Homo sapiens: one gene and its partners. The protein of the gene in region 6 purifies or fractionates together with the protein of the main gene of each other region. This does not show direct contact. Each region holds a gene or a part of one and is shown on either strand. Other genes may lie near its edges.

The links.
Region 1: the proteins of DEK (region 6) and PPP4R3A fractionate together in Homo sapiens (co-fractionation; one large-scale study listed by BioGRID). This does not show direct contact.
Region 2: the proteins of DEK (region 6) and RNF170 purify together in Homo sapiens (affinity purification with western blotting; one study listed by BioGRID). This does not show direct contact.
Region 3: the proteins of DEK (region 6) and TRMT10A fractionate together in Homo sapiens (co-fractionation; one large-scale study listed by BioGRID). This does not show direct contact.
Region 4: the proteins of DEK (region 6) and LRRFIP1 fractionate together in Homo sapiens (co-fractionation; one large-scale study listed by BioGRID). This does not show direct contact.
Region 5: the proteins of DEK (region 6) and NR5A1 purify together in Homo sapiens (co-immunoprecipitation; one study listed by IntAct). This does not show direct contact.

What each region holds. Positions count from the first base shown.
Region 1 is NC_000014.9:91,470,673-91,475,810, forward strand, and holds part of PPP4R3A (serine/threonine-protein phosphatase 4 regulatory subunit 3A), read right to left. Parts: intron 2,699-5,138; coding exon 2,567-2,698; intron 2,464-2,566; coding exon 2,361-2,463; intron 324-2,360; coding exon 165-323; intron 1-164. UniProt on the Homo sapiens protein: Regulatory subunit of serine/threonine-protein phosphatase 4. May regulate the activity of PPP4C at centrosomal microtubule organizing centers.
Region 2 is NC_000008.11:42,858,117-42,863,254, reverse strand, and holds part of RNF170 (E3 ubiquitin-protein ligase RNF170), read left to right. Parts: intron 1-1,399; coding exon 1,400-1,510; intron 1,511-5,138. UniProt on the Homo sapiens protein: E3 ubiquitin-protein ligase that plays an essential role in stimulus-induced inositol 1,4,5-trisphosphate receptor type 1 (ITPR1) ubiquitination and degradation via the endoplasmic reticulum-associated degradation (ERAD) pathway.
Region 3 is NC_000004.12:99,560,205-99,566,093, forward strand, and holds the start of TRMT10A (tRNA methyltransferase 10 homolog A), read right to left. Parts: upstream 3,836-5,889; 5' UTR 3,709-3,835; intron 3,520-3,708; exon of another isoform or gene 3,164-3,519; intron 1-3,163. UniProt on the Homo sapiens protein: S-adenosyl-L-methionine-dependent guanine N(1)-methyltransferase that catalyzes the formation of N(1)-methylguanine at position 9 (m1G9) in tRNAs. Probably not able to catalyze formation of N(1)-methyladenine at position 9 (m1A9) in tRNAs.
Region 4 is NC_000002.12:237,748,854-237,753,991, reverse strand, and holds part of LRRFIP1 (leucine-rich repeat flightless-interacting protein 1), read right to left. Parts: intron 4,794-5,138; coding exon 4,668-4,793; intron 2,793-4,667; coding exon 2,721-2,792; intron 684-2,720; coding exon 513-683; intron 1-512.
Region 5 is NC_000009.12:124,489,326-124,494,463, forward strand, and holds part of NR5A1 (steroidogenic factor 1), read right to left. Parts: intron 3,825-5,138; coding exon 3,705-3,824; intron 1,904-3,704; coding exon 1,756-1,903; intron 1-1,755. UniProt on the Homo sapiens protein: Transcriptional activator. Essential for sexual differentiation and formation of the primary steroidogenic tissues. Binds to the Ad4 site found in the promoter region of steroidogenic P450 genes such as CYP11A, CYP11B and CYP21B.
Region 6 is NC_000006.12:18,246,788-18,251,925, forward strand, and holds part of DEK (protein DEK), read right to left. Parts: intron 3,053-5,138; coding exon 2,864-3,052; intron 1-2,863. UniProt on the Homo sapiens protein: Involved in chromatin organization.

The DNA of each region.
Region 1 (5,138 bases), on a different chromosome or scaffold from region 6:
AAAAACACCTGCTCAACATGGCAAACCTGCATAATCAGTGGCAGAGCTAGTATTACGACCTAGATCTCCTGACCTGTAATCAGTGGTCTTTTCATTTGGGCAATAAGATGTAAAAAATACCAACATGTCAATATACAAAGATGATAAATAATTCTAACACTTACATAATGCCAAGAAAGCATGCTTCGAGGCCATAAGAACTAGCACTCTCCGGAGGATATCCTTATTAATAATGTAGTTCTTTATGTGGTAGGTATGGTGCTCCACACAAAATGTTAACAATTCCAATACAAGTGCCAATAGTTGGGCAGTCTGAAAATCATCTAAAAGAAACAAAACACAACTAATTATATTTAATGACTAACATTTTTCCTTCTAAAATGTAAGAACTCAAATTCTAATCAAGTAAAATCTCTTCTATTAACCTAAATATATTAACTTTAGGGAGGAGGAAATTAGCATTTACTGAACGCCTAACATGTGCCAGGAATGGTGCTTTACTTTTTTTTATTTAATTTTAACAACCCTATAAGAAACTGTTTCACATTATGAGCCTATTAACTAACTAGACCCAAGTTGGAAAAGTTAGTAAGGCAGAGTTATGATACAAATCTAGAGTATCTGCCTTATTCCAAAATTCAAGGACCCTCTACCAGGTACCTTAGCATGTTCTCCAACAGATATAGCATATGAGGTTTTGCCAGACACCGTGTCATCTTTGGTGCAATTACTCTCTCTCCCTGTTCCCTTGATTCCAGTGTGTTTTGTGCCTCCTTTACTACTTGTAACGAGTCTATACTGAATTATAATCATTGACTTATCTTTACTCCTCACTAGGCAGCAAGCCTCTGAAAGGCTTTTTTTCATTCCCCCACGTTTAGATTATAACACAGTCCTTCACAAAATCACAATGAGTTCTCATCTTAATAAAGGTTGGAGGAATAGAACATGTGGTTTGGAAAGAAGCCTCAAGCTTTACCTAATATGAATAAAGCAGGTAAGAAAAATGGACATTCACATTTCATGGACTTGATTCTGGAGTTACACAAAAAGTAAATTTAACTTGTGTTTTATGTGAGTGCTATAATTATGCTATATTAAGAATTCAAGGCTGGGCGTGGTGGCTCACACCTATAATCCCAGCACTTTGGGAGGCCAAGGTGGGCAGATCACTTGAGGCCAGGAGTTTGAGACCAGCCCGGCCAACATGGTGAAAACCCTGCCTCTACTAAAAATATAAAAATTAGCCAGGCATGGTGGCAGGTGCCTGTAATCCCAGTTACTCAGAAGGCTGGGGCAGGAGAATTGCTCAAACCTGGGAGGCAGAGGTTGCAGTGAGCCGAGATCCCGCCACCACACTCCAGCCTGGGCAACAGAGCAAGATTCTGTCTCCAAAAAAAAAAAAAAAAAAAAAAATTCCAATGACAAAATAATGTATTTACTCCTAAAGCTTAAATAAGCAATTTTTGAATGTAGACCTAAAACTACCTCCTAAATTAAACACACGCACACGCACGCTAAAGCTCTAATGAATATAATACAAAAATAACAAACCTTAACATATCTTCAATATAAATAAAAGTAGCTTAATATTGTGCAAAAATCCTAGCTCTGTCTATACATCTGGAGTACAAATAATTTAAAATGAATTTTTTCATAGCTACTGCCTTCTATTTATATTTCACCAGTGTAGATGCAAACTGAATACAAATATTGTTCAACAAAAAATTATCTTATTTCTTTTACATGTTTCTGTTATCTGATTACAGTACTTTCAGGAAAATTGTTTTTTTTTTTTTTTTTTTGAGTTGAAGTCTCACTCTGTCGCCCAGGCTGGATGGAGTGCAGTGGGGCGACCTCGGCTCACTGCAAGCTCCGCCTCCTGGGTTCACGCCATTCTCCTGCCTCAGCCTCCCCAGTAGCTGGGACCACAAGGCACCTGCCACCACGCCCAGCTAAATTTTTTTTGTATTTTTTTAGTAGAGATGGGGTTTCACCGTGTTAGCCAGGATGGTCTCGATCTCCTGACCTCATGATCCGCTTGCCTTGGCCTCCCAAAGTGCTGGGATTACAGGCCTTTTAGGGACATTTTTGTCATGAACCTTTCTTTTCAAAATACATCATTAATTCTCCAGGTTGCTTTTGATAAAAACAACCAACCAACCAACCAACCAACCAAATTATTAAGACCTCTATGTTAACCTGATGGTTTGAACTTTTAAAGACTACTACTTTTTAAAAGGTGTGTCCTCCCAGCCTCTACCTCCCACTAACTGCCTCCTAAAAAGACTGACTTAACACCAACTTTGAATTCAGCATTCAAGAACAGAGAACTTAACTACCAACCTGAATTATCTTACCTTTACTAGGTTTGTCTTCTGTTGTATTTGCTAGTAAAGGAGCAGTGAGAACATGCATACAGTGCTTGTAGAAGAAACCCAGAAATTCAGTCTTTTCTGTTTTCTAAGGAAACAAGAACAATTCCATGAACTTTAACCACACTGGTTCCTACCAGCAATACACAATATACTAGCTATGAAAAAGAGGGGAAATGCTCATGGCTTACATTGGCAGTGGCTAGCATGTTCTCTGGGTCAACTAAAGTTCGAAGCAGGCCCATAAGCTGGACTGCTCCTCCAAGTTCAGGATCTGTATCACAAATCATATGTTCTATAATGAGGTTGATGAGCAAAATATCCTGGAGAGAAAAATAGACATACTCAGGATCACTTATTATGAGAGAACGGAAAAAGCAAAAACTAAGACACATACCACAGCATTATACCTAGGCTCTAGCTGTTTTGTTAACTGCAAAGTGAAATGTTTAACTCAGTTATCTGACAGGACATATGACAGTGTTTCATTCCCTAAAGTGTGGTACAGGGACATAGCCCTAAATAGAAATTTCTTGTCTATTATCTTTAAATTCCTCTGAATAAAGCAAAAGCAAAGTTTTAGTTTGGTGATAATATATCTTTACAACTTTCTAATAATGTAATCTACCTTTTGAAGAAAGCCAGTGGGTTTTATGACCATAGCTTTAAGAGTAAGAATATTTAGGTAGGATTTAGAACATCATAATACTTTCGTTGCTTTTATTTTTATTTTATTTTTTTGAGACGGAGTTTGCCTCTTGTTGCCCAGGCTGGAGTGCAATGGCACGATCTCGTCTTACTAACCTCCACCTCCCGGGTTCAAGCGATTCTCCTGCCTCAGCCTCCCTAGTAGCTGGGATTACAGGCATGCACCACCATGCCCGGCTAATTTTGTATTTTTAGTAGAGACGGGGTTTCTCCATGATCGTCAGGCTAGTCTTGAACTCCCTACCTCAGGTGATCCGCCTGCCTCAGCCTCCCAAAGTGCTGGGATTACAGGCGTGAGCCACCGTGCCTGGTCTATTGCTTTTATTATTATAGAGTCCTTCTATTTATGGCCAGTGATGTATGTTCTCCATTTGTAAAAGTGATATAAAATTTCCTTTTAAAATAAATTTAGGAAAAAATTATCTGAATGTCTGAAATTGGAGAAAATGAGACTATGGTATTTAGAGAGTGCAGAGAACAAATGGATTATACACATTCTAAATATCAAAGAAAAGAGATGGCTGGTTTTCCTGAGGTCCTATTATGACTGGTATTCCTCACCTAAGTAGTAAATAAGATTGAGAGGGATTCAGTGAGAAAATCCCTGCTCTTGCCTATGTGTATGCAAAGGCAGGATGGACAAGGGATAGAGAAAATGCAGACAGTAGATGGAAATGATGATTAAGAAGAGTGGGAATCAAGAGTCCTAGTGACTGAAATGTTATTCTGTTGCAAAACAGGAAAAAAAAAGAGTCCTACTGTGTGTATTTTGAGGTATATCAATACATGTTCATATGTTCAGCTCATGGGTTAATGGGACCAACAATAGCCTTTATTTTCAATAATACAGATACTTTGGTTCTCAAAGAATTTTTTTTTTTTTTTGAGATGGGGTCTGGCTTCGTCACCCAGACTGGAGTGCAGTGGAGCAATCATAGCTCACTGCAGAGTCAAACTCCTGGTCTTAAGAGACTCTTCCTTCTCATCCTCCTGAGTATCTGGGACTATGGGTGCATGCCACCATATCTAAGTTTTAAAAATTAATTTTGTACTAAAGGAGGGTCTTGCTATGTTGCTGAGGCCGATGTTAATATTTTATAAAAGAAAAACATGACACAACAGTTCAAACTGGTGCTTTTTTGCACCTATCCTGCACTATAAAAATAAAAACTTAAACATAGCAGTTACATGGCATTCCATTTCCTTTTGACATCACAATACATTAAATAGGATCTTTTCAAAAAGTAAGACAGTCTATTTTCCTATTTCGTAAAAATACCACAGGCTGGAATTCTAAACAGATTTTTTTTTTTTCCTTAGGGGATCTTTATTCCCCTCCTCCCTTAAGAAGGACCTGAGAGCAGGTCCTTCTTACTCATTCTTACGTAAAAAGTTGCTTCCAAATTGTTATGGGGGAAGCAGGAAAAAATCAGAATCATTGGTTCAATTATTTTAAAATAAAGGAGAGCACACACATTTAGTGCTCTCACATGTCACGCACTATGTGATCCAGGCGCACCCTTCACATTACCAGGATATATTCTCTACTACTTTAAAATCTGGTATATCTCAGATGCTAACGTGAGTGTTTGTGAACAACGTAACAGCTTGTTCTCTATGGCTAGGCAGTAAAGAAACAGCACCCTTCATATTTTAAGGGACTGTGCTACATTTCTTCATTCTTGGCGATTTTGAGAATCTACCCTAAAGTCAATGTTTTCCTAGGTAACTTACTCTTAATTCCCCAGATACAAGAATTGATTGACTAAATGATTTAAAAAACACAATATAGCAAGTTGACTTCAGAATTAAAACAAAACAAAACAAAAAAAAACTGACATGAATATTTTAAAAGGCAATTTAAATGAACATAAATAGTTGCTGTAGGACAAATTGATAAACTGAGACAGGAACCAATTTAGGGGAACAATAAGCTGTCTGATATTATGGCTACACTTTTCCCAAACAGCAACAATTAAATCTTAAAAGTGAATAATAAAAACAGTTATAGCTTCCTATGTATAAATACTTACTATTAGTACAAATAATATTTAC
Region 2 (5,138 bases), on a different chromosome or scaffold from region 6:
ACTAGAGGCTCAGAAGGTCGAGATAAAGTTGTCTTAATATAATAGGTCTTGGTTCCCTAAGATAAGAGTAATTCATCCTGGAGGCAAGACAGATGGCAAATGCTTGTTCTACCTCCTGTTTTCAGTAGCCCCTTCAGTAAATGGTCATGGAAATAGCAATACACAGGCTGCCGCCTCTGACTGGAACACATTCACCACTTCTCCCCTTGAATGCGTGCACACCAGCCACAGTCCTACCACCATTTCCAGGTTTGGCTCAGTATCAGGCTTTCTGACCACCCCAGGCAGAAGAGATCCTCGCTCTCACAGCAGCATTCTTGCACCTGCCCCAGGACCATGTAAGGCTGTCGGCCAGGTCTTCCTCCCCTTTCCTTGTGGGTGTTGTAGTCACCCTGGAGCAGGCTTTTGACTTCATTTTTCTGGCATACCTAGCACTAAGCAGAGTGCCTGGCCCGCCATAGGTGTTCCATTAATGTGTATTGAAAGAATGCATTTTTATTAACAAATTTGTGAAGGAAGTGATGGCTGCACCTGCTGTTCTCACCACCTTCTGTGCTTAGTCACGCCTTCTTTTAGCTGTTTGGAAAGCATCTAAACAGTGGGAAGCCTTGGTTTTACAGCTGAACTGAGGAAGGACAAAACAACAACTAAATGATTTAAAACTAAATCGGCCACCACTCCTTCCCGTTTTTATGTCATCATACAATCATTAGTGACCATTTTCTATAAGGGTGCTACGTCCTAAAGTGTATTTATTTTTCAAGGTACTGTCACCGTCAGATTACCCCAGTATGGTCCTGGGACATTTGTACATCCTTGTTACCACAACCATGAAGGAAGCAGGGTTAAATGTATTATGTTATATGACAATATCAAAAATTTCTTTTTTTTATTATAGTAGGAATTGGTGTTTGAGAGCTGGTCCCTGCAATAACATAATCTTTATATTATGGTTGGTAGCATTCAAAGATCTTTCAAATACCAGTAAGAATAACCAATCATTATTTTAATACTGAAAAAGAAAACCATAATTTTTCTGTCTTAAAGTGACAGTTATATATTTTATGTCACTTTCCTCCTGAATGTTTCCTCATCCTTCTTTTATCTTCAAATATCTGTTAGCCCAAATAGAGAACTAAGGAATTTACCCCTGGTGTGGACAGGAAAATATTAGGCCAGTAGTTGGATATGGTGTCTATTTTATAGGAGTTCAAATTCTATGTTGCATTGGATTTTATTGCAAAGCAGTTACTTACTCCCCTCCCCCAGGTTGCCTTTATTTAAAAATGAGTGAAATATAAATATAGAAGCCTTTATCATTCTATTGAATAATAACACAAAATGAAAAAAACATAATGATGCAGAAAGTTGAAATAATTTTTTTTTCTGTAATATACAGGTAACCTTACTCCTAACAGTATTTGGTGAAGATGATCAGTCTCAGGATGTTCTGAGATTGCATCAGGATATTAATGATTATAACCGGAGATTCTCAGGGCAACCCAGATCTGTAAGTAATGCTAAAGCATGTTCAAAGTTAGAGGAAGACACATTTCTTCTCTTTTGTAAAGTGAGGTTTACCAACAAGTATTCTTTGACTATGAGAAATCTTGGCCAGGCACAGTAGCTAACGCCTATAATCCTAGCACTTTGGGAGGCCAAGGCAGGTGGATCACTTGAGCCCAGGAGTTTGAGACCAGCCTTGGAAACATGATGAAACCCCATCTCTAGAAAAAACACCAAAAAATTGGACAAGAGTGTTGGCACATGCCTGTAGTCCCTGCTTCTTGGGAGGCTGAAATGGGAGGATCACCTGAGCCCAGGAGGTTGAGGCTATAGTGAGCCATGATCGCACTATTGCACTCCCACCTGGGTGGCAGTGAGACCCTTCCTCAAAAAACAAGAAAAGAAAAAGAAAAAAAAAAATCTCATTATATGTGTTGGGTCAAGTTTTTACCTTCATTGCTGCCAATCACTACATTACACCTTTCCCAAGGACTACAATTTTCTTTCTTAAAAAACAAACAGCATTATAAAAGTTTTTATGAAAGAGAAACTAGCAGAAAAGCAATAGAAAAAATTAGAGGGAAATAGAAAATTATTTACTTCTTTGTGATACTAAAACACCATTTGTCTTTTGAGAAAAGTTACAACTGAAAACTTTAAGTTTCACAGTTGTGGTTTATTCTATTTGCCCTAGCCCTGTTTGAAATGTTCCCTTAAAAAAATTCCAGGTTGGCTGGGGGCGGTGGCTCACGCCTGTAATCCCAGCACTTTGGGAGGCCGAGGCGGGTGGATCACCTGAGGTCAGCAGTTCGAGACCAGCCTGGCCAACACGGTGAAACCCTGTCTCTACTAAAAATACAAAAATTAGCTGAGTGTGGTGGCAGGCACCTGTAATCCTAGCTACTCGGGAGACTGAGGCTGGAGAATCACTTGTACCCGGCAGACAGAGGTTGCAGTGAGCCGATATCACGCCACTGCACTCCAGCCTGGGCGACGAGAGTGAAACTCCAAAAAATTCCAGGTTTAGGCCGGGCACAGTGGCTCACACCTGTAATCCCAGCACTTTGGGAGGCTGAGGTGGGCAGATCATTTGAGTTCGGGAGTTTGAGACCAGCCTGATCAACATGGTGAAACCCTGTCTCTACTAAAAATACAAAAATTAGCTGGGTATGGTGGTTTGTGCCTGTAGTCCCAGCTACTTGGAAGGCTGAGGCAGGAGAATCACTTGAACCCGGGAGGCAGAGGTTGCAGTGAGCTGAGATCACGCCACTGCACTCCAGCCTGGGCAACAGAGTGAGACTCCCGTCTCAGAAAAAAAAAAGTTTGGAGGGATATGTTTATATGTCATCTTAGCTATTTAAAAGCAGAACACTGTACAGATAACCTTTCTTCCCCTTACCCTAGAAGTATTTGATAAATCAAAAACTAGCACATTTTACTGACTCATTCTTGTTTTATCAAAATCTAACACATTCTTAGAAATGTAAAACTGAATAAGTACTTCAAAAACTAGAATGTACTAAATCCAAATTTATATGGACAGCCCAGACCTCTCCTCTGAGCTCCAGACTCTGTAGATCCAACTGCTTCGCTTCCATTTCAGCGTGGGTGCTCCACAGACATCCCTAACTTAACACGTGGAGTATTGAGCTGATTCCCTCCTTGACATAGTCTGTTCTTTTCTCAGTTTTGATTTCCTCCTCTTCTTCATTCCTCTCATCTGGTCTATAAGTAATCCTACCTTTTCTTTCTATTTTTGGGGTGTCCTATTATTTTTACTGCATCAACATATTCTTGCTGGCTGGGCACAGTGGCTCATGCCTGTAATCCTGGCACTTTGGGAGACTGAGGCAGGCAGATCACTTGAGCTCAGGAGTTTGAGACCAGCCTGGGCAACTTAGCAAGACTTTGTCTCTACCAAAAAATACAAAAATTAGTCAGGCACGGTGGTGTGCACCTGTAGTTTCAGCTACTTGGGAGGCTGAGGTGGGAGGACTGCTTGAGCCCGGGAGGCAGAGGTTGCAATGAGCCAGGATCACATCACTGCACTCCAGCCTGGGTGATCGAGTGAGACCTTGTCTCAAAAAGAACAAAAATGTCTTGGCTGTGTTGTTGTTGTTGTTTGAGACAGATTCTCACTCTTTCCCAGGCTGGAGTGCAGTGGTGTGATCACGGCTCACTGCAGCCTCAACCTTCCAAGCTCAGGCCATCCTGCCGCCTCAGCCTCCCAAGTAGCTGGGACCACAGGGGTGCATCACCACACCCGGCTAATTTTTTATAGAGACTGGGTTTTGCCATGCTGCCCAGGCTGGCCTTGAACTCCTGGGCTCAAGCAATCCACCCCCTCAGACTGCCAAAGTGCTGGGATTACAGGTGTGAGCCACCGTGCCCAGCCTGTGTCCACTTCTTTCAATCACTGTAGACATTGTGCTGGTCCAGCCCTGTCATCTCTGCTCACGGCAACCACAGTGGCCTCCTCACTTCTACTTTTTTCCCTGCCACAGCAGCCTGATACATGTTTTCTAGACATAAATGAGACCATGATGCTCTTGTGTTTGAAAACTTCTATTTTGTTTGTTTGTTTTGAGACAGGCTCGAGTGCGGTGGTGCAATCTTGGCTCGCTGCAACGTTTGCCTCCTGGGCTCAAGCCTTCCTCCCACCTCAGCCTCCCAAGTAGATGGGACTACAGGTGCATGCCACCACAACCCGGCTAATTTTTATATTTTTTGTAGAGATGGGGTTTCGCCATGTTGGCCAGGCTGTTCTCAAACTCCTGGGCTCAAGTGGTCCTCCCACCTCGGCCTCCCAAAGTGGTGGGATTACAGGCATGAGCCACCACTTGTGGCCCAATGTCTTTGAATGTTCCAACTCCTTACTGTGGCTTACAGGGCGCCACATGATCTGGTCCTCCCTCCCTCTCCAAATTTCTGTTAACCGCCTCAATCACCACCCTGCAGCCACCCTGCTCTATGCTCTCAGCACACACACAAACTCCTTCCACCTTAAGGCTGTCACACCTGACACTTCCTCTGCATGGAATGCTTGTCCTTCTGCTCTTATGGTGATTTCCCAGTCTTTAAATGACAACTATCTTAAGTAGACCCTCCTTGGAGAAGTTTTCCCTGCTCTGTGGCGCCCTCTGTACCTTTCCTTCATGGCGTTTATCATAGACAGCACTCAATTCTTGTTCATTATCTTTCTCTCAGTAAACTAAAAGCTTCATAAGGGTAAGGACCATTTTTATTTATTTACCACTGCCGAGTTTCCAACAGTGCCAAATTTGGTGCCTTAATGTGTGTTGAATAAATGAATTACTGTTAAGATAAGAATTGATACTGCTGCTCCCAGCCGAATATATTAAGCTATTCAGATGCTTCAGTGTTAAACAGACATGTGCTCATGCTCCATTGTTCCTTGTTCTGTGAGGTCGTGTACATTTCAGGGCATAGATTTCAACTGTTATGGATGATAATGGGTAGATTTACCCATTTTTCATTGAGCAGGAAAAAAAAAAACTTAATCCAATCATGTTGTCCTCCATAATTATTTGGGAGCCTCTTCTGCAATTTTGACCCAGCAATTTTTTTTTTACATATCCTCCGGTGACATCAGTAGGATGGTTCTTTAAAAA
Region 3 (5,889 bases), on a different chromosome or scaffold from region 6:
ATTTGGCTGAAATATTTCAGAGAGGTCATAAGGGAATAAGAAGTATAAGAACAAGACAGAAAGTTGTGATATAAAAGCAGGCTTTACTAAAAAGTAAAACAAGAATCAGTGAAAAAGAACAGAATCAGTGAAAAAGAATCTGTGAAAACTAGGAAATGAAGACATAAAAAGTTCAATAGAAGAGACAAACTCCAGATTATCTGGAGTCCCAAGAAGTAACTGATGACTTAGAAGACAATCTGACTCAGGATGCAGACACAAATAGAACAGAAAAATAATATGGAGGAGCAGTAAAGACTTGGATAACAGAATAAGAGAGATACAGGAAAAAAAGGTAATTAGAGATAAACATATAGCCTTGAATGCATTCATTAATTTTTTTAAAAAAAATCTAGAAAGTAAGGTAAGCATTCAATTTAAGAAACTGGAGGTGGGGAAACTGAATAAGCCTAAAAAGGCTAGATGGAAAAAAATTAAAAAATATGTATTTTGATCCCCTGGATCACTTTTATTTTCCTTTCTTGCAATACACAATACATTAAATAAAATTCAGCTATGCAGGTATCCAAAACGACACCGAGTGGAGGAAACTTAAAAGCACAATTAAAATTCACAGGAAACAAATTGCTCTCTTCATGAAATAATAATATTCCAAGAGAGTACATTTCTGTTTATCAGTGGCATCATTTTCAGTTAGTTCTCTATTTTATTCAAAAACGGCATGTGTTGATTAGCTCTATGTGAAGATTTTTTTTTTTTTTTTGGAGACAGAGTCTTGCTCTGTCACCCAGGCTGGAGTGCAGTGGCGCGATCTCCGTTCACTGCAACCTCCGCCCACTGCAACCTCCGCCTCCCAGGTTCAGGCGATTCTACTGCCTCAACCTTCTGAGTAACTGGGATTACAAGCGCGCGCCACCACGCCTGGCTAATTTTTGTATTTTTAGTAGAGAAGGGGTTTCGCCACGTTGGTCAGGCTGGTCTCGAACTCCTGACATCGTGATCCGCCTGCCTCGGCCTCCTGAAGTGCTGGGATTACAGGCGTGAATCACCAGGCCCGGCCTACGTGAAGACTTTTTAAAGAGCAATGTAATGTTTTACAGGTCATGTACACCAGGGGGAGCATATGCCTTTCCTATCTAAGAAGTCTTAAGTTAAATTTAATATGACCTGTCATAGTACATTAATGTTTCAATCTCTCAAACACAAGGAAAGGTCATGAGATGGTCAACATCTTCATCATCATCATCATCATCTTTTTAAAAACTATTCCTAACTAAGAAAACGACTGTACTAAGTGAAGTTTTTAGGCTTTAAATAAGCCAGGTGCACTGAGACAAATGGAATGCAACAAAAATGATGCTAACCTGATATCTTATAAATTATTCCGTATAGTATACTTTACAAAGATATCTACCAACTCGCACTGTCTACACTATACAATAAGTATAATGTATATCTACACTGCACTATGTACTAGCGTGTTCAGATTACCTGTTAAGCAAAACAGCATTTTATTAGGTATACTTGCTTTCTAATTGTTTTAGTTTGGGCAATAATTTATAAAATTCCATGGCAGAGTTTTTCATTCCTTTCTCACATGCAGTGATGCTCACAGTACATTTTCATTCATTCAACCAAGTTCAACAAATGTTCAAGAACGTATTTTACAGTAACTATAAAAATATTTGTGTGAGGTCGGGCGCAGTGGCTCATGCCTGTAATCCCAACACTTTGGGAGGCTGAGGTGGGCGGATCACCTGAGGTCAGGAGTTCAAGACCAACATGGCGATACCTCGTCTCTACTAAAAATACAAAAATTAGCCAGGCGTGGTAGTGGACGCCTGTAATTCCAGCTACTCGGGAGGCTGAGGCAGAAGAATCGCTTGAACCCGGGAGGCAGAGGTTGCAGTGTGCCATGATCGCAGCACTGCACTCCAACTAGGGCAACAGAGTAAGACTCCGTCTCCAAAAAAAAAAAAAAATTATATATATATATATGTGTGTGTGTGTGTGTGTGTGTGTGAAATTTTACTCCTGCATAAAATTTTAAAAATTTGTGGGGTTCATTCGCAGACATAGGTTATTAAGTGGGCTTACAAACTATCTCACTTTGTAAGGCAAGGACACATCCTACATCAATGAGCACCAAAAGAAAAAAAAAAGTTTTTTAAAACTGCATTAAGTTATGGATTGGGATAAAATAAATAATCGTCGTTAATTTATGACAGTCTCCTTTTCAGAAAAATCTCAACGAATGTGGGAATAATGCAGATTGGAATTAATGACTTGACAGCGATAGCAAAGGAATGCCTTTTTTTTTTTTTTTTTTTTTTTTTTTTGAGAGGGAGTCTTGCTAGGTCGCCCAGGCTGGAGTGCAGTGGCGCAATCTCGGCTCACTGCAACCTCTGCCTCCCGGGTTCAAGCGATTCTCCTGCCTCAGCCTCCCGAGTAGCTGGGACTACAGGTGCGCGCTACCACGCCCAGCTAATTTTTGTTATTTTTAGTAGAGACGGGGTTTCACCACGTTGGCCTGGATGGTCTCCATCTCTTGACCTCGTGATCCACCCGCCTCGGCTTCCCAAAGTGCTGGGATTACAGGCATGAGCCACTGCGCCCGGCCTTTCTTGTTTGTTTGAGACGGAGTTTCGCTCTTGTTGCCCAGGCTGGAGTGCAATGGCGCAATCTCGGCTGATTGCAACCTCCGCCTTCTGGGTTCAAGTAGTTCTCCTGCCTCAGCCCCCCCAGTAGCTGGGATTACTGGCATGCGCCACCACGCCCGGCTAATTTTGTATTTTCAGTAGAGACGGGGTTTCACCATGTTGGTCAGGCTGGTCCCGAACTCCTGACCTCAGGTGATCCACCCGCCTTGCCCTCCCGAAGTGCGGGGATTACAGACGTGAGTCACCGCGCCCGGCCAGGAATGCCCTTTTAAAAGACATGCGGACTAAACGTGGAGGAGCGAAAAGCCCTTTGTTCACTTCAGTTGTCAAGCCTTTTGGGCAGAGGGTTGGGAATGGAAGGGGCAGATGAAATTCTTTCAGAAAGTGACAAGTAATGTGTTGCCATCCTCTTCATATCTGTAGAAAAATTCCCAAATTTAAAGTATTTCAGTGAAATCAAGTAACACTTCGATCTTTATAAAACTGTCCTCAGCTCACAGCACCTGCAGCAACTTCCCCTCGGGCTCTCTACATTTCAGAGAGTTCAGCGACGTCAGCCCTTTGCAGGAAAAATGAGGTAAGGCAGCTTTAAAGAGGTAAAGCCCACGGTCTCTAGCCACGAAGTGGCAGGGCCATAACACGCTTTCCGGCCCTTTAGAGTACAGATTTCCCACTGATTCTTTGCAAACTCACTTTTCACATACTACGGGCCGATGGCAACCCCAAAACACACGCCGACGGAAAGCGCCCCACCACGGGGCGGAGCCTCGCCCACTATCCCTTCTAGGCTCCCAGCCAGCAAACGCATTTCAGAGACGGGATTAAGCTGTCTCTGGCGAACCAGGGAGCAGCTGGGTAGGCCGCGGGGGGCGCCTGTCATCGACGTCATTTCCTTCAGCAAGAGCGCCGCAGGAAACCACTTCCACACCACTGCTCCCCTCTCCCCCGGAAGCCCTTGTTGCTAGTAGGGGGCTGCATGGCACGCGCCCCTTTGCGTCCAGAGAATACCATAGTGCGGGGGAGCGCCAACCAGTGCCAGGACACTTACCGAGCTGAAGAGTTGACAGGGAAGTGAAATCTCAGAAAGAAAGCCTTTCTGGGTTGGCCTGGTTACGGCTCACGCTTCCTTCCACAGAAACTTCAATTCCCAGAGGCAGGGGCGGTAGTTACGCAGTGGAGGCTACGGCGGTTGCGTCTTACGTCATCGAACTGCGGCCATTTCGAACCCGCAATGGAAGAAAGGGGAGGGGTTTATGCGGGGCGGGGTCTGGAGTTAGTGTTTTGGGAGTGGGAGGTAGTTACAGTGATGTCTGTTTTTTCCCGTTCAAGAATTAAGTGTGTACCTGCAGACGTGTATTCATTCATATATTCTTGTGAGTATTGGATGAAGGAATTAAGATAGTCCCACTGTTAAAAATGCAAAACAACGAAGAAAGGCTCCTAATTTTTCTGTGTTGAAAATGAGAGAAAAACATCTCTTGCCTATATTATTTTTAATTTATACAGAAAATTACCATATCACATGATTTTACATAACTCAAGTGGAAAATTAAATTCAAAAAGTGAGTCAGATTCACAATAAAATGCATTTAAATTTAGAATCTGTAAGGCTTTTTTATGGCTGAAGTAAAACAGCCATAGCTTTACTCTTTATTCATTCCTTGAGCTATTTTTCCTATGCTGTTTTGCAAAACATCAGATGACATTTCATTGTTTATAATACTTGACCTTATATAATCTTTTGCTATATATAGATCATGTCAACTGAGAGAGAAATGAAATACAACCCCGTAGATTGTCATTTTCTATTTAGTTTTTTTCTCCTCTACTTCTAATAGGTGATTATTGCAGAATTTGAAGGTAAGAATGAGGTTTGCATCTTGAATAGAAGACTGGCTTCTCATATAGAAAGAATTTTGAAGTAAATTATCCTTGAAGATATTTGAACATGTTTAAAGGCTTCAGTGAATAGAAAATTAAATCCAGAATTTGAGATTCTCTAAAAGAGCCGAAATTTCTTTGACTTTAGTTACAAAACTAAAGTCACTCTTGCCATAAGCCCTTAAATTTTACTTGAAACACTGTATCAGCTATAACACTGTTGTGAGTCCCTCTTCTGTTTCTTCCTCATCTCAAACCTAAAAGATCTTTGTTAACTGAGCACTGGCAAAAAAGTCTGGATCCACTTCTGATCTGTTAGTAGGGCATCTTTTTTCAGCTGCCTCCATATGAGGGCAAAGAGTAGCTGAGGGAGGATTAGTAATTGGATATGTAGCCCTTCACATGTAGGTCATTAAATTCAGGCTGGCAAAGTGATGTGCCAAATCTTTCCACAGCTGTTCAGTTGCTCCTATGGGATCTGTTTTATAAATAATTATACAGTTTTTTCAGAGTTAATACCTGGCCTCCTTAGATATTTTAAACAAAGTTTTAAAGCAAAAAAAACCACTTCATATTCTAATAATGAAGTCAATAAATTTTCTTTTGACATAGACATTTAACTTTGTAGTCATTTGGTGCAAAATTTAAAATGATTCTATTATTAATCCAAAGTAAGCACCAAAAGAGCACCAGCAAAAGTCAATTTAACAAAAAATTGAAACATATAGAAAGTTTAAGACGGTGAAATCATGTGAAACAATATTTTCATTGATTTGTAAAATTTATGTATTTATTTATTTGACACATGTATCGAGTTCTATGCGTTTTGTCTTAGTATTGGTGATACAGAAATGACGAAATCATGCTCTCTGTGCTTAAGGAATCCTTAATCTAATAGGGGAGCCAGCAGTAAATAAATACCATACAACATGTACTTGAGATGCTTGTACTTTGAAAGAAGCAACTAAATGCTCCTTGAGGCAGAGGACATAGTTTTGGAGATTAAATAATTTTGTTTCATCTTGGAAAGTAAGTAGGAGTTGTACAGGTGTCAGAAAAGTGAAGAAGTTTAAGATATTGGGAACAGTGAAAGCAAAGACCTAAGCGTGTCATAGTTTTGCACATGACTGAAAAGCTGTGGATAGAATGAGGAAGAAGGAGGAGATAATAACCCTAAGGGCTTCTCTAACTTGGACAACTGTAGGAATGCAGTAACATTAACCGGGTCATTTAGGGAATACTGGAAGAAAAATAGGTTTTGAGGCCGGGCGTGGTGGCTCACGCCTGTAATCCCAGCACTTTGGGAGGCCTAGGCGGGCGGATCACGAGGTCAGGAGATCAAGACCAC
Region 4 (5,138 bases), on a different chromosome or scaffold from region 6:
TGGCAAAGAGTATGGTACTTTTATTCTCAGATGTTTGGATTTCCTGGATAAGCGGAGAGCCATTGTTTAAAAATATAAAAATACATAATGTAAATTATACATTATATATACATACATACACACGATATATCCACACATACATACATACATACACACACACACACACACACCCTACCATTCCCTTTTTTTTTTTTTTTTTTTGAGACAGTGTCTTCTCTGTTGCCCAAGCTGGAGTGCAGTGGTGTCAACACAGCTCACTGCAGCCTCAACCTTCCAGGCTCAAGTGATCCTCCCACCTCAGCTTCCCAAGTAGCTGGGACTACAGCCATGTACCACCTGGCTAATTGTTTTAATTCTTTTTAGAAATGATGTCTCGCCATGTTGCCCAGGCTGGTCTCGAACTCTTGGGCTCAAGTAATCCTCCCACCTTGGCCTCCCAAAGTACCAGAATTACAGGCATGGGCCACTGCACGCAGCCTATTGTTAACATTCTGTATCATACTAATGCTTACTTTGTTTTTCTCTTCGTACTGCCGCCTAGATTCAGCCAGCTGTTCTTCAAGCTCCAGCAACATATCTTTTAGGGTATCAACCTGGTACATGAAGTTTGTCTTTTCATTGTCTAGCTGAGCATTGGAAACCATAGCCTTCTTATATTTCTCTTCAACTTCTGCTAGAGAGTCCTGTGGAAAGCAGGTCATATTTTTGAAATTGCAATAAAAAAATCAAAACAAAGAATCATTCAGTATTCTGTTAAAAAAAAACCCTCAGTCCTAAACTTAGACTATATTTCTTAGAGCAAATGGATCAGAAGAAGAAACACATGGCAATTTCAAATGCATGGAAATCCCCCTTTTCAATTTGGTCAAATTCTCATTGCTCAGAAAATTCACTATTAAAAGCAATGGACACACTCATTAGAACAAACGAGATACCAGTATGGAAAGGGATGTGGTCACAGAGGCAGTAGAGTCTCTGGCCCCACTCAGTAGCTGGGGAATCCCCCCAGCACGGCGTCCTAGGGCTGGGTGTCAGGCTGTTCAACAGATTTCTGAAGAATCACTCGAGGCGTGTGACCAGCCCTTGTGAAAGAGCCAGTGTGTGATGGCTGAGATAATTACATAGGGCCACAAGCCAGTGACTGCCAACCAGCCCTACTCTGGCTTATGAACCAGGAAAGGAGCAGTAGTGAGTTCAGATTTTTGACTCATAGGAAAATGGCAGGCAGATCTCACTGGGTAGGTCCTGGAAAGACAAAGGTCATTCCCTTTGAAGGACAGTCCAGAGAAAGAGGCCTGTAAAATACGCATGGCGATGCCCTCACGTGCCTCACACCCTTGCAGGTCCCCAAACATGAGGAGGGGAAGGCGATTCCAAAACAGAGAGGCAGAACCTTCAGGGCGCATACATGCAGAGCTAAAGGCAGCGGCAAGAGCTGCCAGTTCAGGTGCAGCAGAGGCTACCAGGGGGCTGGAGGGACCAGTGCTGGTCTAGCTCTGTACCTCCACACCAGGACAGCTGCTTCACGTGGGACCAGCGGGTCTCCGGTTGGTTCAGTGGCTCCCCAGCAGCATTTTTTCTTTTTTGAAACAGTGTCTCGCTCTGTCACCCAGGCTGGAGTGCAGTGGCACGATCTCGGCTCACTGCAGCCTCCACCTGCCAGGTTCAAGTGATTCTCCTGACTCAGCCTCCCAAGTAGCTGGGATTACAGGTGCGCACCACCACACCTGGCTAATTTTTATATTTTTAGTAGAGACGGGGTCTCACCATGTTGGCCAGGCTGGTCTCAAACTCCTGACCTCCGGTGATCCACCCACCTCGGCCTCCCAAAGTGTGGAATTACAGGCGTGAGCCACCACGCCTGGCCAAGTGGCTCCTTTTCGCATGAATTGAAAGCCAGAGTCTTATTTTTCCCCCTTTCAGGAAAGGTGGCAGATATGAAGATAGTGAATTAGTCATGATCGATGTCACCTCCTCTGTCTGGTGCCCTTTGATATTAAATTCAAATGATCTTGCAGGTACTTTCTAGGGGGCTGAAAAGGAAGTAACAGATACGCCACCCACTTCCAGATCCATGATCCGCTGCTGCCTAAGGAAGACAGTCACTGATTGCCCACCTTACTGTCAAGGAACAGGGCAACCACATCTCCTGGCTGGTGCAATGAAGTCACTGCACACTCTAAAAGCAGTGTGCACACGCTCCAAGAAAGCCAATGCCATAGTCAGTCTTTACTTCAATTAGTAGCATTTTACAGGGTGCAAATAATTGGGATGTTTCAAAAGTGTGGCATGTGAGGACGGCCTTATTAGTAGACATCAGATATTTTGAGAAGCAAATCAACTGAAGCATTTTTGTATACAACTACTACAAAAAGTGAAGAAAACCAAGAACCTTCTTCAAGTGTCTGGCACACGCCTATGGGAAATGAGAAACTGGTTTTAAGCCTGGGGGAAGGATGGTAAGTCTAAGGCATGCATCAGGGAGTATGTTAGTAACCTTTTCTACTGGGCAGTTACATTTTCAATCTTGGTTCAAACAATGCATTTGGGAAAATGGTGAGTGTACACCCATGCCGGCACTCCTGCCATTGTGAGTTCTTCTACACCCTGGAGCCTATTTACAGTAAGCATGCACTTTGAATTTCTTCTTTAGGATGTTGTTTTTTTTTTTAAGTTAAGTTGGGTTAATATCGTGAGACCACACGTCTGTGAATTGGTACCTTCATCTCTTTCAATCCCTGCATGTATTTGCCTTCTACATCCTGAATCTGGTCCTTTAACTCATTGAGTTCCTGGGGGAAATGGCAAAAAAGGCAGATGATGTCAAGGGAAAACAGGTGATTCCCTAAATCTTTTATACTTCAGGGTAGTTTCTATTTGGGTAGTCTGAGCACCCAATTTTCTTTTTTATTTTATTAAGCGTTAAGGGAAAATAAACTTCAATATTTAAAGATTAAAGTTCAGGTGTATCCCATATGATATTTTTACATGATTTTATACAATTTTAGTGTATCTCATATGATTTTACACAGTTTAAAAAACAGACAAAATAGAGCCTCGGAAAACGGTACAGGTTATTTCAACTCCTATTTAGTAATTCATTCAAGCACTAGGAGTTCCTACTCTGTGCAATGTACAGTAAGATGCTAGAGGCAAAAATCAGTAGCACTTTTTCCCTGCATTTATGGAGCTCCAAGTCTCTACTTTGCCAAATTCCTGGTGCCGGGGACAGCATCTGGCACCAGCCAGCCTCTCAGTAAGTACCTGAACAAATGAACGGCACGCGCAACCTAAGGGCAGAGAAACATCAGGACTGCCGCCAACTCTGCTGCTCTGCTGTAGAAACGGAAACAACAGGCCAGGCGCAGCGGCTCACGCCTGGAATCCCAGCACTTTGGGAGGCCGAGTGGGTGGATCACCTGAGGTCAGGAGTTCAAGACCAGCCTGGCCAACATGGCGAAACCCCGTCTCCACTAAAAATACAAAAGTTAGCCGGGCATGGTGGCGGGCGCCTGTAATCCCAGCTACTCAGGAGGCTGAGGCTGGAGAATCACTTGAACCTGGGAGGTGGAGGTTGCAGTGAGCCGAGATCGTGCCATTGAACTCCAGCATGGGTGACAAAAGCAAAACTCTTGTCTCCAAAAAAAAAAAAAAAAAAAAAAAAAGAAAGAAAGAAAAGAAAAGAAAAAGGAAAAAAAAAGGGAAGCAACAAGGAGCTGCAGGTGGCCCAGGGGTGGCACATGGGAAATGGCTCTTCTGGTTTTGTAAACTTATAAAACATAGGTGTTGGAAGCATCTTCAAGGTAACCCTGGCCAAACTCTGGTGGATGCTTAAATCCCTCTCCGTCCTCCCTGGCAAACGGCCATCCAGCTGCTCAGACATCCCCAGTGGAAGTTGCTTCCCTTTTAAACCTAGTTTAAAGCACTAGAAAATTCAGAATCTGAGTCAGTTCTGGCTCCTTTCAGCTGCTTCTGTCTTGGTTCTGCTCCCTGGAGGACACAGGTCTAGTCACCTCACCTGCCCTTCCAGTCTTCAGGTTTTCAGATGCACTGTCCCTAGTTACTTTAACAAATAGCACCGTGTTTCTCTTTCACACACAGAATACTACCAAATGCCTGGCACTGTCCTGGGTGCTGAGGATAGAGCAGAGAATAATACCTACACTACAGTGGGATAAAAAAAATCATTAAAATACAAAGATGAGGGCTACTAAAGGCACATTACAAAGAGAAAGGAAAGGGCAAGTTCTAGGCCGAAGGGGAACATACTTAGTGGGGAGGGGTTGTGTGAAAGTAGGTAAAGCCGTCTGGTGTCCAAACTTGTGGACTGAATGTCTATGCAGACCAAGCATACAGAGACGACCAAGTGCATCAACACAACGTGCCAAGTGCTCTCACTAAGGTATTCCCCGGGTGCTGAGGGGCGCAGGGGGCCGGCACACGGTCCGCCCTGCTGGGGGGTCAGTGGGTAGGATCAGATTCCTGCAGGAGACACTATCTGAGCTGGGTCTTGATGTTAGGAGAACACCGTATTTTAGGGGAGGTGAGGGAGAGAGGACCAAGAAGAAAGATCCAGAACTTTATGAATTAACTTTTTTTTTTTTAATCTAAAGACTGATTTTTACAAAAGGTTCTCTCAAGTTGTCAGTAAGAAGAGAGCATCTCACCTTGATTTCCCTGATGGATGCCTCGGTGTCGATGGAGATGGAGGTGTCTCCGCTGCCTCTCCGAGAGGAAGTCCCACCCAGAGAGGCCAGCGTGGCTGCAGACAGGCCCGGCATGTTACGAGACCCCTGGAACGTTGAGAGGATCACATGCTGATATGGTTTAGCTCTGTGTCCCCACCCAAATCTCATCTGGAATTGTAATCCCCATAATCCCCACAAGATGAGGGACGGCCCTGGTGGGAGGAGACTGGATCACGGGGGCAGTTTCCCCCATGCTGTTCTCGTGATAGTGAGTGGGCTCCCAGGAGATCTGATGGCTTTGTGTTTGACAGTTCCTCCTTCACATGTTCTCTCTCCTGTCGCCTTGTGAAGAAGGTGCCTGCTTCCCTTTTCACCATGATTGTAAGTTTCCTGAGGTCTCCCCAGCCATGCGGAACTGTGAGTCAATTAAAGCTCTTTTCTTTGTAAATT
Region 5 (5,138 bases), on a different chromosome or scaffold from region 6:
CCCGCGGACACACACTCCAATTCTAGGTGCCTCCAAGCACCACCCTTCCCCACAAATTACTCATGTTCCCAGATCTCCCGGTCCATCCCCAGTCACACACAAACTCTTCACACAGGCTAACACTTCAGAAACCACAAGCGTATGAAAGTTCATCGTTTGCACATGCCAGCACGCACGCATGCAGAGACAGACGTTCACGTAATTCCTGCAGGCTCCACGCCCCAACCACACAGACCCCCACCACGCACATCTGTGACTCTATCCTGTGCCAGTCTGCTGAGCCTGGCAGGCTGCGGGGAAGGTGCCGTTGCGGGCAGAGGTAGGAGGGAGCTTCCCCAGCTGCAGCCAACCGAGCCTGGGTCCCTGAGGCTCCTGTAAGGATTTCAGGCCACAGCTCCTAACTGGCTGCCCAAGATCCTACCCGCCCCCCACCCCAATGGCTGTCCCCTGCTGACCCCTGCAGAGCCCCGGCTGGTGTCCTGAGAGGTGGCTTAAGGTGGCCTTGCAGATAAGCCCTCCAGTTACCAGCCTGTTCTGCCAGAATCGGGAGACCCAGCCCACTGCACCCAGCCACATGGCATGGAGGATGTCACCAATCCCACCCAAGCACTGGGCTTCCCACTTTTCGTTAATCCCCTCTGCCTCCACAACACTCCCCACTCCCCACTCCTCCCTCTCTCTGGCAGGCATGCCCCTCGCAGACTGTGACTATAATGCCAGCCACCAAGACAATACCTTAATCCTGCCCCCTCTCCAGGTGATGAAGCACTCACTCATCTCTATCCCATCCCACCTGCATCACTGCAAAATAATTCATTCCCCCAGAAAACTCCTACTCATCCTCCAAAACCCTGCTCAGATGCCCCTCTTCCAGGAAGCCTTCCAGAAAGAGCTCTGCTCCCCACCCAGGGTTCCCTAAGCCACACCCATCTCTCTGTCTCAGCCCTAACCACCCAGGCTGTAGGTCTTTTCACGATTGGCAAGGGACAGCTATGTCCTCAGCATCTCTGGGCATGGGGAGGGCATTTGTGATGGCTTTCCAGGGAGTGAGGGTGCAGACTGGAGTGGCCCAGGCAGGGTTGGGGTCAGGAGGGCAACGGGAAGGAGACCCCCCAAGTGCTTGGGGAGTGAGGTGGGTGGCCGGGCTGGGCTGGGCCAGGCCTGCTCTCTGCCTCTCCTCTGCTTTCTTTTCCTCCTTAGCACTGGTCACAACCTTCCTGGCTATGCCTGCCTAATCGTGTTAGGAACCTACGTCTTACTAATCATATTATGCTCATGATCTGTCTCCCCTAGAGAAGGTCAGTACCACAAGGGCTGGGCTTGGGGGGTTTTTGCTCACAGCGGTATTCCCAGTGCCTTCTCCAGTGCAATTTCTCGGTGCCTGTTTGTAGAGTCAATGAATGGATGCACGTGTGCATGAGCAAAGGGGTCCAGGCCCCCAGGAGGTACAGTCAAAATTGGGGCCCCCTAGATCCAGGGATTAGAGAAAACAGGGACCCCAGGATGGGAGCCTGGAATAAAAATCCTAAAGTCACATGGGCCACCAGAGCGGGAGCAGCCCCCATTTAAGAGCCAGGCCCTGGCCGGGGGCCCTCAGACCTTTGTTCACTGAATGAGTAAGGGAGGGGTCCTTTCTCCCCGAGGCTCCTTCGTGGCCACTCTGGCCACAGCAGGGCTACCTCTCCAGCCTCACCCACCCTCCCACCCACCCGCCTCTGGCTGTCTCCACCTCTCTGTCACTGGAGCTGCACTCACCCAGGCTGAAGAGGATGATGAACTTGAGGCAGACAAACTCCTGCCGGTCCAGCTGCAGCGCAAGCAGCTGCAGCACCAGCTCCTGCGCCCGCAACACCAGGCTGTGCAGCAGCGAGCCCGCCTGGGTGGCCACTGTGGTCAGCTCCACCTGGGGGCAGAGGGCACGGGGCGGGGGACAGTCAGAGGACGTGGGTCCGGGCAGGTGGCTCTCTGATGGGGGATGCAGGGCTGAGGGCATGGATTGGAGGTGCAGGTCAGATGGGCTGGCGTCAGGAGGGCCCAGCCTTGGTGCCGAGCCAGGCACGGGTAACATCTGCACAGCCCCGGGGACGCTGCCGGGCCCACCCTTCCGAGCTCTCCTCAACCCGCCAAGCCCGGAGCTGAGGCACCCACGTTCTGCCCGCGTCCACCCCTCCTTCACACACAAACCCCAGCACCAGGCCCAGCAGCACCAGCAGCTCAGGGGGCCCCTCTACATGCTGGGAGGGGAGGGGTTGGGGAGGGCAGGCCTGTGTGGGGACACACAGACACATCCACATGGCTTCCCAGAGCCCCCATGTTCACACCTACACGCTGGGTCACAGCTCAGCTCAGAGTCACACACACACACACACGAGCACAGTCATGGGGTCGCCCACTCTGTGAAGTGAAGGCACACACGTGTGCACACGGCCACACCCGCCCTTGTACGCTCACACTCACGGCAACACATACACCCATGTATGTGATCACATTTACGGGTTGATGGGAAGACAGTGACACCCACACACTGATGTGTGTGGAGATTTTGCACAATAAAACACAGGCAGGCACACACACACACACACACAAACAGGCATTCCCATGGCCACAGAGACTCAGCCAGCCTGCGGACACCCACACTTCATGCAGACTGCAGGCACCTGCGCTCACAGGGAGCCCCAAAGACACCCCCCTGGGACCAGTGCTGCCCGTCCCGTCCTCCTGCCCCGATGGCCTGTGACACCGAGGAGAGAGCTGGAGATGAGCAGTGGGGGCCTGGGAGGGCTGGAGCTGGGAGCAGAGTCTGTCTTCCCCACCCCACAGCACCCACCGACCCCACGGCCCTTCCTGTGTCCCCACCTGAGAGTGGCACTCCTGCCAGCAGGCTGGACCCTGGCCATCAACCCCCTTCTCTGCCTCCCCCCCTCCCTCTCTTTCCCTACAGCCCATCTCTCCAGGTGAGTCTTCCTCCGTGGCTGTGCCCCCGTGTCCCCACCCTGGCCCCCCACCTCCCATCCTGACCCCTCCGCCTGCCTCCTCAGATACCACCTGGCCATGTCCCTCCTCCTCCTAAAGCTCTCCCCGGACCCCTGCTGCATCTGGACTTTCTACTCCCCAGATCCTCATTCCCTGCTCTAAGGGGGCCCAAATTCCGACTCTGAGCTCTCTGGAGCCCTTTGCCCATTCATTCATTCATTCATTCATTCGAGATTTAGGGCCTGCAAGGTTTGCCTGCTAAGCCAGCACTAGCAACCCCCTAGCCTCCCTCATCTCTCACCTCATGCCACCCCCACACCGGCACCAGCAGGGCCCGGGGGCTCCACACTTCCACCCTCTCTGAGCCTGCGGTAGACGTGGGGACTGCCCCCCTCATCCCTCATTCCCCAGCCAACTCCAGTGTGTTATTTCCAGACCCAGGGCCACCATCACCTCCTCCTCCATGAGCCTCTCCTCACCATGCCCACACCCCCTGAGCTGCTCCCCAAGAGCAGGGCTCCCAGGGGCCGGCGCCTCTCAAGCCTGGGCCAGGGCTGCTCACAGAGGGTTTGGGCCAGTGGGTGTTCCATGAACGTGGGGAAAGGGCTGATAATTAGGGTGCCCAGAGCCAGCCCCGAGAGGCCTGGGTCCTCCTCTCCGGGGCCCTGAATCCTGGAAGTGCACAGCGGGGCCAGGGCGGGGCCCAGGGGCGGGGCCGAGGGACTGGTCACCTCCTGCCCGGTGACCAGCAGGATGCTGCCCTCCTTGCCGTGCTGGACCTGGCGGTAGATGTGGTCGAACACCAGCAGCTCGCTCCAGCAGTTCTGCAGCAGCGTCATCTGGTCGGCCACCTGGAAGGAAGAGGCACGCGGGGGGCCGGGCTCCAGCCAGGGTCCAGGGACCTTCCTCTCACCCCTTCTCCTCCCACTGAGACCCAACTAGGCGTGCAGCCTGGGCAAGCTAACCTCTCTGTGCCCATCTACCCAGATGTCTAGGCTATCAAAGTGCAACAGAGGTCTGGCCAGTTAACAAAGGGATGTTTGGGGGTTGAATGGGCCAGGCTTCAGGCCCCACCTCTGTCTTTTGTATGACTTTACGTAAGTCCTGGTAACCTTTCTGTGCCTCAGTTTTCTCATCTGTAAAGTGGGCAAAGTACTGAGCGGACAGTCCAGTACATGTTAGGTATGCCATACATGTTAGTGACTAATGTCCATGCAGGTGCTCTGCAAAGGACTCCTACAAATGCCTGGCAAGGTTATTATTAATTTTAACCTTGTCCACATTTAAAAGCCTGTGGTCGGTCACACCTCTGGCAGCCCCAACTGCTCAAACAGGAGCCATGAGGGAGAAACCAAGGGCTTCCCCCCCGGGCCTACGCAGAGCTCTCAGGCTCAGGAGGAGGAGGGAGGTCCCACCTGGCCTGAGGTCAGGCCCAGGGCATGAGCAGGGGGGCGGCAATGGCCTGGCACATGAAGCAGAAACGAACAGCAACAAGGGGCTGATTCCGAATGCCCAGGCTGCGGCCAGAGACACTCGGTGCAGGGGCAGGGCCAGCCCCTGTTTGGAGTGTCCTTTGACTCTGCAGGACTCAGAAGCAGAGCCAGGGATCCCCTGGCCCCAATCCCTATTTTTCAGCTGAGGAATCCGCCACCCGGAAAGGGCAAGAGACTCTCCCGGGATCACACAGAGGCAGGGCCAGGCCAGGGCCACGGCTGGCATTCCCGGTCCACAATCTCCACTGTGACAAAACGAGCCCTTCTGGGTATTTGGAAGCACACTGGGCACTGCAGATGGGCCTGGGCAGACACAGCCCCATCCCTCTCAGCCCGTGCCACTCACCAGCTGGCCACCATCGACCCAAAAGACACTTCTGGCGCACCTTCCTGGGCCGTGCCCTATGGCAAATGCAAACCATGACAGCTGACAGTCATTCCACTGCAGCCCTACAGCCCTGCGAGTTTCGTATAGTCGCCACCCACATGATAGAGAGAAGAAACTGAACAGAGAGGCCACACAGCTCTGTCTAGTTCCAGATTTGCGCTCTTAACCACTAGGTGTGGAAGAGGACCTCTCACTCACCCTCCTTGCCATCCAGGAGTTCCTGGTCTCTCACAGGCTCCTTGCCTCCTCTACAGATCCTCTACCTGATCCCTCTCCTTCCTCGA
Region 6 (5,138 bases):
CATTTTACAGAGGAAACTGAACAAAGTAAAATCAATCTACCCAAATTCACAGTTATTTACTCCAAGAAAAACAGAACAAGAAGCTGATCTTAATGAATAAGAGTCTTTTATTTATCAAAGAAAAATCTGTGTCAGAAAATAAACAGAATATTAACTCACTAATTTCCTATCATAAAGAAATCTACAGGCAATCCAAAACTTCTGTGACTAACTTGCAACTTTTCTTTATGGCTTCTTAGAAAAGAGGTCCTTCCATAGTAATGACCAAAAATAGCTCCATTTATGAAGTTCCTAACATGGCTGACATTTAGAACTGAGTCTTCATAAAATGGAATAAGGAAAAACAAAGTTGCCACAGATACACTGTTCCTCCTGCCAGAACTTACCTTTCAAAGGCCTTTCACAGAAACTGAATCAGCAATAAAAAGCTGAAGACAGTGCTAAATTTAAAGCAACAATGCTTGTTGGAGAGACATTTATCAGGGAAAAAAAAGGGGGGGAAACAATTTCTCAGTCCAAATTTTATTTTACATTTTATAAAATCTGTCAAGTACTAGCAAAGGTAGCAAAAAAATCCCTCTAATAAAATATGATATAGCTTTTATATTGTGTGATTTCATACACCTAATGTCTGAAAGCATTTTTACATTTTCTTCTCCCATGGATTTTCATCAATTGACCTGGGTTTCTAGTCACAGACCCTAGATTAGGGCACTACAGAAGGTAAAGGTTTGATTTATAGTGAGATGGTTCCACTTGTGATTATTATCCTGGAACCAATATGGGTATAAATCAGGTATCATCTGCATACACCAAGTTCAACTACCTCTACAGAACTATGGGACAACAATTTAGAAAGCGAATTTTAAAAGTGAGTATAAAATGCTCTCGTTTTTTTTTTTTGAGACGGAGTTTCGCTCGTTGCTCAGGCTGGAGAACAATGGTGCGATCTCAGCTCACTGCAACCTCTGCCTCCCCGGTTCAAGCAATTCTCCTGCCTCAGCCTTCCCGAGTAGCTGGGATTATCGGCATGCACCACCACGCCCAGCTAATTTTGTATTTTTAGTAGAGGCAGGGTTTCACCATGTTGGTGAGGCTGGTCTCGAACTCCTGACCTCAGGTGATCCACCCACCTCGGCCTCCCAAAGTGCTGGGATTACAGGCATGGGTCACCATGCCCGGCCTGCCCTCACTTTTTAACCTGCACCTAGTAATGACAAGAAGATTCGATTTAGAAGTTTTACTTGTCATAAAACATCATTTTAATTCTAATAATAATAGCAACTAATACTTACATACTATATGCACCAGGCACCGCTCTAAGTATTTTAAATAAAATCCTTTAATATGACCCTATGAGGCTAATACTATTATCACTCCCCATTTTACAGATGGGAAACTGAGGTATAGTTTAAATAACTTGCTTATACTAATACAGTAATAATCCAATATAGAGGTCAGATTTGAACTCAGTTTCCAGAGCCCATGCTAACGTCTCTATGAAAAAATTAGACATTTATATTCTATGATAATGTTTCGTGCTTTAACTCTGCCCATAAAGAGAGTTTAGGAATCTGAATGGCACACAGTAGACACCAAATATTTCCTGAATGAAGATACTATCAGTTTAAAAATTTCCACTGTTATATATATACATACAAACAAACATGTTTTCCTCCCGGATATCCAATCCATAAAGACCTTAATGCTCAGATTACTTATTTTCCTTTGTGCCAAATATATATTAAGATATTTATGAAGCACCTACTAGATTCGTAACCCTCTTTCTTAAATGATGAAGCATTTCATACTTAGCTTTATAGAAGTCTTTATAAAATTTGACGCTAAAACAAGCATGAATTGTAAATAACTCAAGACAAACATACATACTAAACACCCACACATATCATATAATACCAGAGTTCACTATATCTTTATTCCTTCTAATTCAGTGGAGATGATTCCCTCCTTGTCTCGCCCCAGGGACATTTGACAATGTCTGAAGAACATTTTTGGTTGTCACAAGGGGAGCTTGGGAATATCACCCACAATTAAGAATCATCTGGTCCAAAATGTCAAGTTGACATTATCCAAGTCCCTAAATAAGGCAAGGTTGATTACCCAATCTATAGAGCAAGTTCCAACCTTTGAACGAAAACATCAAAGTTAAAATACAGTCTACCAAAACATCATTAACAATAATAGAAACCCATCTCCTGTACCCACTCTCCATGATCTACCTGACTGAAGAGGTTAACCCTCTTATTTAACTGCTTCAGCAGTTCTCTTCTTCATGAAGTTTCACTTTGGAAACTAAGAGTCTCAACTTTTACAAATACTCCCAAATAAAAGAAAATGACAGGTAATACAAAATTTATCCACTCATTATATAAACTTCAAATGCTGTTTATTCTCACTACATAGTCCCCTAAAGGTTGAGGGGGGGAAAAAGGCCCTTAAGTCCCTTGCTTTTTCCGTAAAATAAAATGATCCAAGTCAATTATAAAGTATCAATATATTACGAAAAAAATCCTCGAAGAATCTGCTCCTATGTGGTCCTATTCAGGATATGCACCACTTCCGCTTCCCTTCCCATTTATCTACTCTAGTCTTCAACGTCCAGCTCAAGGCCCACTTCAAATCCAGTCCACACCAACCTCACTCTTTTCTGACTCATACTCTGACATGGTAATGAAACTAAAAGCTCTTTAAGGAAAAGAAATGGGTTCATACTTAATCATTTCTGCATCTTCAGAATTAAAAACAACCAATAAGGAAGTGTTTTCTGGCTGTACCTTATAGCAGAAATATTTAACTCTCCCCATGGAAAGAAATGATTTAAAAATATAGTAAAATATTTTACCTCCTCTTCACTTTCTTTATCTTCATCATCTGAAGACTCTTCCTTGTTTTTCTTTTCATCTTCATCACTACTAGATTCATCTGACAGAATTTCAGGACATTTGGTTCGCTTAGCCTTCCTTGCCATTCCAGAACTGTTCCGTTCCTTTTTACTGCCTTTGCTACAAGTTTTTTTAGATTTCGGCAATGGCTGCATAAAAATTTATAAAGATAACACCAATGAGGTATAATATTTCAATCAATTCTCTTCTTGAAAACTTATCAACTCAATTTCTTATTCCTCTCTCAAGAAATTGTATTTACAAGCCCAGCAGCTTTGCAGAGAATAATCTTTAACCGTGTCAGGTTAACCTAAAACTGTGTTACTAATACCATTTGTGTTCTAAACACCTAGCAAGACCCTTCTCAATTGTAGAGAAATATGTATTCTAGGTTCTGACATGGGACTAGAAGCTCAAGACACATTATGTTAAGCTCCAACGGCTGTTAATACTTTGTCATGATAATATTTTAAGTTAGATTTGTAATTTATTTCATCCCTACAAGCATTAAAACTGTCACTGCCAACCCAGCACTTTGGGACGCCGAGGCGGGCAGATCATGAGGTCAGGAGATCGAGACCATCCTGGCTAACACGGTGAAACCCCGTCTCTACTAAAAATACAAAAAATTAGCCGGGCGTGGTGGCGGGCGCCTGTAGCCCCAGCTACTCGGGAGGCTGAGGCAGGAGAAAGGCGTGAACCCAGGAGGCAGAGTTTGCAGTGAGCCGAGATCGCGCCACTGCAGTCCAGCCTGGGCAACAGTGTGAGACTCCGTCTCAAAAAAACACAAAAAGCAAAAAACAAAAAACTGTCACTGCCAAAGAAGCTCCTTGCTTTAGAAGGCCCAACACTCCAATCGAAGGAATGGGAGAAAAACCTTTTTTTTTTTTTTTTTTTTTTTTTTTTGAGACAGAGTCTCATTCTGTTGTGCAGTAGCTGGGATTACAAGTATGCACCATCACGCCCAGCTAATTTTTGTATTTTTAGTAGAGACAGTGTTTCACCATGTTGGCCAGGCTGGTCTCAAACTCCTGACCTCAAGTGATCCACCCACCCTGGCCTCCCAAAGTCCTGGGATACAGGCATGAGCCACCACGCCTGGCCCATAAAAAAAATGTATAACTTTATTACCAATTATACATCCTGAATTTATGAATGAACTATACGGTTTATATTCATTACTTCTGGCCTCTACTTTCAACAATGTCAGGCTCATATTATCACTGATGCCTATAAGTATACAATAAATGATAAGTATGTTAATTATGAAACTAAGAATATGCTGCTATTATTCTGATAATCAATTAAACCATGTATATTAAAAGCAGAGATCACCTGATGAAAATGAGTTGATTACAGTAAACAATAAATTTAATTTTTAAGTGCTTTCTCAAGGAAGTTTTGCTAAATTCTAAAATTGAAAACCATAAAATTACCTAACATCAAGAATGTTAAAATGCGCATTACAGAATTAATATTTATTTCTGGGATTGAGCATCTTTTATATTCTTTTATTTCTACCTTTGTTACTTTATTTTCTGCAATAAGCAGAAACATTAAGGTAAAATTCCATAACATAACCTTAAGGTATCCAATTGTGTAAATGTTTGTGATAACTTTAGGCAATATTTTTCTTGCAGAGACTAGAACGACAGGTCCTTTACCTCCCAGGAACCTCCAGTCTAGGGGTCACTGTCACCTACACAAAAATTAAGAAAAAGTGGCTGCTTTGTATAATATGGTACTCTTGAGCTCTCTGCAAAGAAACCACAGGATAACCTAGATTGCTCCAACAACGTACCCTTCTAAAGGCACACTAGGAAACAGCAAAATTAGGTCACTCCAGGAACTTGAAGTTGGTGGATCAAAGACATTTCTCAGAGAAGATTCTCTATAAGAAATCGTGAATGCATACACATATCCTTGCTATGTGAGATACTACCATTAACAACTATTATCAGAACCTTAATCCATGTGGATAAATTCTTTGATAGCACCGTTTGGAGAAAAGGTAACTCTCACTGTCCAAGCTCTTACTACTTGTTACATGATCTCCAGGTCTCAAATGTATTAGAAAAACATAATATCCCTCACAATCTCAGCTCAGAAACCAGACACAGGTAGCAAGGATGTAATCTGTATATCGAATTATTAGTATGAGGACTGAAACAGGTTCTGGATAAATCTATCCAGGAAAGTGAAAAGATGTTAAGTTATTCAAGCAGCCAATAAAAA